Linked DNA regions of Homo sapiens. The protein of the gene in region 2 interacts with the protein of the main gene of each other region in a biochemical or structural test. Each region holds a gene or a part of one and is shown on either strand. Other genes may lie near its edges.

Region 1 (3,060 bases), on a different chromosome or scaffold from region 2:
CCAGGAGCACCATGACCCCCACCCATCCCAGCTCCACAAGCACTGCCAATCGCCCCTGCCACCATGGTCCTCACCACAGCGACCCGCATGCACACCCAGCACCCTGCTGACACTCCAGGCTCACCCACTGCCACGCCTGCTCCGTGCTGCCTGGCAACCATCCTCCCGCCTAGCAGGACAGCCCTCCCAGTATAATTGTCCCCTGATGAGCACCAGAGTCCCCGCACCTGCACTGTCAACCCCTGGCCAGCGTTACTCTCCCCTGCCCAAATGTACTGTCTCCATGGGGATCATTATCCCCCAGCCAGCACTACTGTCACCCCCACCAGCATCACTCTCGCCCTGCCAACATGACTCTCCCTGGCCAGCATTATTACCCCCACCAGCATCACTCTGCTCTCCTCCCTCCACCCCCACCTTCCCCACAGCCACACCAACCTCAGCCACCTCTCAGGCCACCACCACCACCATCACAACCACCCAGTCCAGCCCCCAACCACCAACACTCTAAATGCCTCCCGGTCAGGACTTCTGCCCTCACTCTCACCCCTGCCCCTGGCTCCCCCCAGGCATTTCCTAGCTCTCCCATCTCCCTCGCTGCAGTCTCATGCCTGTTACCATCCCTCCCACCCCTGCCATCATCCTGCCATCTCCACCGTCAATGAATAAACATTTATTGAGCACCGGCAAATCCCAGACACTACAGAACACACAGAAGGCATGGCCCCACGCCGAGGGCCCCAGCCCCTTGCAAAGCTGCCACGCTGCCAAAAATGGTGGCGCATGCAGCTCAGGCGCAGGCTGAGGCTGGGGCTTGGCCGGGCAGTGCACTTGGAACGGGGTCCTAAGGCCTCTGCCAGGTTCCAGCTGGGGCAGGGGTCACGTCGCTTCCTGAGAGCAGAGCAAATAAATAATGGAGAGGCAGGGGCTGGGGCCTGAGGTGGAGGGGCTCTGGCGTTGGCTTATGTGACTCCATAGGAGCAAGACAGGTGGCCGGGAGCCCCCACCCCAGGGTGGGGAGGCAGAGCCAGGGGACCACAGGGTCCTGGGGCCTCCCTGGCACCTCCACTGGTCCCTCGCCTCTGGGGCCAAAGCAGGGTGTGGGGGGACACCCCAGAAGGCACTGCTGAAATGCGGCTGGACTAGAAATGAGTGGGCAGAGAAGCTGGGGCTGGGCTGCAGTCCCTAGAGCGGGGCGTCATCAGTCCTCCACTTGCGGGGGTAACCCTGCTGGTGGCCATCGCAGCGGGGGTTCCCCATGCTGTCCAGAGGCACCACCACCTCGTCCGGGTTCGAGTTCTTGTTCAGTTCCACCACGCGGGGTACCACCGAGGACCAGCGATCTGCACCGAGAGCACATCAGAGGGAGGGGTGGGGGTTGGTGGAGAGAGAGCGTGCGTATATTGAGTGCCTACTGTGTACTGGGCACTCCACAGTGTTCTGAAGGGGGGATGTGACTATGCTCATTTTACAGAGGTGGAAACTGGGGCTCAAGAGAGGTCAAGGTGCCTCCCCAGGAGAGAATGGAGGAACCAGGATTCAAGCCTGGAGCCGAATGCCCTGAGTGCCTGTGTCCTCTCCAGCTGCGTCTCGCGTGCTCATGGCTTACTGGACAAACAGGAAGGTTTTCTCCACACAGGGATGGCTGAGGAGCTCGTCCTCCCTCCCCAGGCCAGCTTATGTCAACAGTAGGGAGGGCCAGGATGAAGCCACGTAGGTGAGGTGCCCCAGGCATTCACAAGCAGCAGAGGAAGCTCAGGGGCACACTCTCTCATTCTGTAGACACGGACACTGAGTCCCGGAAAGAAGCAGGACTGCTCAAAGCAAATTCGTGATGAGAATGGACTGGGGCTCCCCTCCGCACCCGCCCCTCCACTCACCCCTGCGGAGGCGGCCCACGGTATGCGAGAAGCCATAATACTGGTAGGTCTCATTCTTGCCCGGGTCCTCGTTGATGATGCCCAAGTTCTGGTTCCAGTGAGACCAGTTCACCTCATCCACCCTGGCAGGGCCCAAGCAGAGGGTCATGGGGAACCCCTCAGAGACGCTCTCCATGCCACCATCCCCAGCACACCCTCCTATTTTTTTATTATGGTAACATATACATAACAAGGCTGGGCGTGGTGGCTCATGCCTGCAATCCCAGCACTTTGGGAGGCCGAGGTGGGTGGGTCATTTGAGGTCAGGAGTTCGAGACCAGCCTGGCCAACATGGTGAAACCCCACCTCTACTAAAAATTAAAAAAAATTAAAAAAAAAATTAGCGGGGCATGGTGGCGGGTGCCTATAGTCCCAGTGACCCGAGAGGCTGAGGCAGGAAAATCACTTGAACCTGGGAGGCAGTTGCAGTGAGCCGAGATCACGCCACTGCACTCCAACCTGGGGGACAAAGCAAGACTCCATCTCAAAAAAAAAAAAAAAAAGACGTGTGTGTGTGTGTGTGTGTGTGTGTGTATACACACACAAAAAATTTGCCATCTTAATCATTTTTGAGTATACAATTCAGTGGCATTAAGCACATCCACATTGTGTGACCATCACAGCTATCTATTTCCAAAATTCTTCCATTCCCCCAAGCAGAAATTATTTTTTTTAACCTTCTTTTGAGACAGGGTCTCACTCCATTGCCCAGGCTAGGGTGCAGTGGCACGATCACAGCTCACTGCAACCTTGACCTCCCAGGCTCAAGTGATCCGCCCACTTCAGCCCCCCATGTAGCTGGGATTACAGGGATATGCCACCACACCTGGCTAATTTTTTAAAAACGTTTTGTAGAGATGGGGTTTCACTATGTTGGTCTTGAACTCCTGGGCTCAAGCAATCCTCTTGCCTCGCTTCCCAAAGTGTTGGTATTACAGTCACCACGCCTGGCCCAGATAATATTTCACTGTACACATAGCCCACATTTTGTTTATCCACTCATTTTTTTATATATTATCTTTTTTTTTTACATATTATCTTTAATTTTTTATCCTATCTATTCATTTTTGTTTGTTTGTTTTAAGGCAGAGTCTTGCTCTGTCCGCCAGACTGGAGTGCAGTAGTGCAATCTCGGCTCACT
Region 2 (3,655 bases):
ATGAGATCCCCAAACCCCGAGATAAACCTGAAATTAGAAAAATCAAATCCATATTTTAAATGTTAACCTTTTTTATCATGAGCAACTTGTCTTATTATAAAAGTAAGCAAAACTATATCACACAGAGGCAAAATAAAAAGGACTACATTTATACCATATTTATTTAAGATCTACTATTATCAAGAATTGTACTAGGCTCCACTGACATCAAGCACACAAGGAGTGTGTCATCTACCTGTGGAGAGACATACCAACAAAATAATTGGAGCTAACTAAATAAAAGCTGCTTGCTGACTAAACGTCATACTAACACTGATTCTTCCTCAAATTTAATCCAACTTCAAAACAAGAAAAACTGCAAGAGACAAAAAGTACTGCCATCGCAGACACAGGCACAATCTCAGACAGCATTTGAAAATTCCACTAATACCTTTGTGATTAGAAGAACCTCTTGGTTTTCCAAAATTTACAAAGTAGTAAATAGGATCAAATCTGACTATAGCAGGAAAGCCCACCCAAAAAAAACCTCTGCAAAGAAGGTCTCCTTAAAGCTTACCCATTTTGTTTGGATAAATCACTCTCAGACAACTAACTAAAAATAAATGTAGTTTCAAACCTCAATGGTAATTGTGTATTTTAATACACTAAATATAATCACATGTAATAACATAGTAATAAGCTTAAGTATTTTCAATTTTACCAGTCTTTAATCAATAGCCACAATAAAAATTAAAATAAAAATCTATGGCATAAAAATTGGTAAGTTACTAAATAAAATTCTAACAGTATCTAAATAAGTATCTCTGAAGTAATTATATACACTATCTGCCACTACAAGAAAAGGTATTTATGGCCTTTACTATGCTATTAAAAATAACTCGGTCCTGTTGAAGGTTACAGAATCATTAAAAAAAAAAAAAAAAGCAACTGCTTATAGATGGAAAATACTGGAATGTTTAAGGAACCCAGAATGAAAAAAATACAATCGAAGTCTCCAACAAGCTGTTGTTTTGCTGCTGTTTCACCCGTATTTGGTTCAATAATCACCTATTCAAATGACTATTATATCATCTACACATATTTTCAATAGTTTCCTTTTATCCATTAATTTTATCCAAAAAGGCTTCCAAGTAACTAATTGAAGTATATTACTGTAAGTATGCAAATCATCAAAGCTCATAAATATTCAGTCAAAAAGAAGCTGGCATATCTACAGCCATAACACCAAAATAAAATACCACACTTAACTCTATGGCACATACTCAACTTATTTTGAATTTAGTCCCAACAAAAAAGCAGGACAAGGAAAAAAAGTGTTAAGAAATTTTCTTCACCAATTAAATAATTTACATGACAGGTGAACCAAAAAAGCAGCTTGCTGAAAGTATTAATGTACTTAAAGAAGCAACAGGGTGATTGGGGAACAGATGGGGCTCCAAGATGTATAAATTCTTATCCCACTGGTACTTTAATTGTGTTAGTTATTTCAGAGCTATGTGTCTATATATTCTTTTATCAATATTCTTCCTTAAAATGCAGCTTTTCTTGGGAATTATAAATGCTCATCATTTTGGACAGCAAAAACATTACCTAATATATAACTTTATAATGACTCTCCTCCATGCCTTCAGGTTCTATTCTTGTTCCACAAAGTAGAATTTAATTATAAGGAATATATTTATTTTCAATGAAAATATTAGTAAACTGATATAGAGGCAGTTAAGGTGGGTTTCATTTATTTCACAAAACTCCAAATTTCTGTCCATGCAACTGTATTTTCAAATGATTTAATTACACATACTATCAGAAATGTACTTCATCAAAATACTTTCTTAGACCTTTAATGTGTAAAAATCACTTAAGAATACGGCAAATCCAAAAACATCACATCAAAAGTAAATTAAAAATTATTATAGGTAATGCTAGAAATACAGCTTTAACTGTATTTCTCAATGTCTTTCGGAAATTTCTATCCAAACATACCAGTTAGACATGTTGGACTCCAAACTCATTCCACTACCACCATAGTAACTGCAGCTGCCTCCCCTACCCCAACCAAAAGATAACAGCAACATTTACAGCTAGATTCCATATTTGAAAAGCATAAATCATTTTCAGTCCCACAAACTTAATCAGGTCCTATAGTACTGAGAATACTGTTTTTTTTCTAATTTATTTATTGTTTTAAAACAAGGTCTCGCTCTGTTGCCCAGGCTGGAGTGCAATGGCGTGATCCCAGCTTACTGCAGCCTCAACTCCTGGGCTCAAGCAATCTTCCCACCTCAACCTCCAAAGTAGCTGGGACTACAGGCATGTGCCATCATGTCTGGCTAATTTTTTAAAATTTTTTTGTAGAGACAGGATCTCACTTTGTTGCCCCAGCTGGTCTCAAACTCCTGTGAGCGAGCAATCCTCCCGCCTTGACCTCCCAAAGTGCTGGGATTACAGGCATGAGCCACCAAGCCCAGCCTCTTTTTTATTCTTAAATGTATTTTCTTTTCACCCTCGCCATCCTCAGCGAAAAAAATAGTATTTTCTGTCTGCAGTCTCTCTTCCTTCCAACTCATCATCAATAATACTCTCATCAGTTTTCTTTCTCAAACATATCATATCCCCTTCCCTTAAAAATTGTGAATGATCTCTGCTGACTAGAATTCAAAATCTTCATGTTTTGCAAGACTTTACCAATCTGGCCCAATCCTATGTTTCCAGTCATTTCCCTATGTCTAGCCCAGAACACTACCTAGTTTCCCAAACATGCTATCCGTCTAGTACCATTCTTTGTTGTTGCTGCTTTCTAAGCCTAGAATGCTTTTTCTCTACTCTTCCTGGCAATCTTGGAATGAAATCTTACTCACATTTCCAAAGGCCTAAATTTAAAATCTCCTCTGCAAAGACTTCAATTCCTCTAGATCAGGGATTAACAAATCTTTCCTGTAAAAGGCCAATAGTAAATATTTTAGGCTTTGTAGAGGGCCATAAAGTCTCTAACTACTCACTCTGCCATAGTAGCACAAAAGCTGCATAAAAGAAGGGGTGTGGTGGTGTACAAGCAGCAGCTGAATTTGGTCCAAAGGCTATAGTTGCTGACTTCTGTCCTAGACAAAATTACAATTTACCACATAGTACTATAGCCTGTTGTCACCTATATTTACATTGTAAACTCCCTGAAAGAAGAACCTTTTAGTAACTTTTAATTAAGTCTTCTTCCCAACCCCAGTACAGTACCTAATACCAAAAAATTCAGTGTTAAATAAGCAAAATGAAGACAATAATACAGTATTACAATCTCAATCAGCAATAATAAGTAGTACATGTCAAAAATAGTGTACAAACGTTTGACTTATGTTAGTCTTAAAGACACTAATTCCTAAAATATCTATGTTACTCACTAGCCTCAGGCTGTCTTGACTCTAAACTTAAATTAAATATATTTTAAAGCTTTTTTCCAGTACTAGGAAGAGTCTATAATAGTTAACTGCCAAACTTCATCCAGATATATCTGTGGAACAGTGTCCTTGGGTAGTTCATAAAACTAGGACTCAAATGTTATGATTTAGAATCATCTGTCCCAAAGTATAAAACATATTAATCTGTGGTCAGTGATTAGTTAAAAATAATCAACAAAAGGGGTAATACATAGTTCCTGAATGAT

Evidence for each region. The genes of interacting proteins can lie anywhere in the genome.
Region 1: the proteins of CETN3 (region 2) and TRPV4 interact in a test that uses a peptide from one of them, tested with the Homo sapiens proteins (one large-scale study listed by BioGRID).

What each region holds. Positions count from the first base shown.
Region 1 is NC_000012.12:109,782,436-109,785,495, forward strand, and holds the end of TRPV4 (transient receptor potential cation channel subfamily V member 4), read right to left. Parts: intron 2,003-3,060; coding exon 1,881-2,002; intron 1,344-1,880; coding exon 1,186-1,343; 3' UTR 654-1,185; downstream 1-653. UniProt on the Homo sapiens protein: Non-selective calcium permeant cation channel involved in osmotic sensitivity and mechanosensitivity. Activation by exposure to hypotonicity within the physiological range exhibits an outward rectification.
Region 2 is NC_000005.10:90,399,682-90,403,336, forward strand, and holds part of CETN3 (centrin-3), read right to left. Parts: intron 1-3,655. UniProt on the Homo sapiens protein: Plays a fundamental role in microtubule-organizing center structure and function. As a component of the TREX-2 complex, involved in the export of mRNAs to the cytoplasm through the nuclear pores.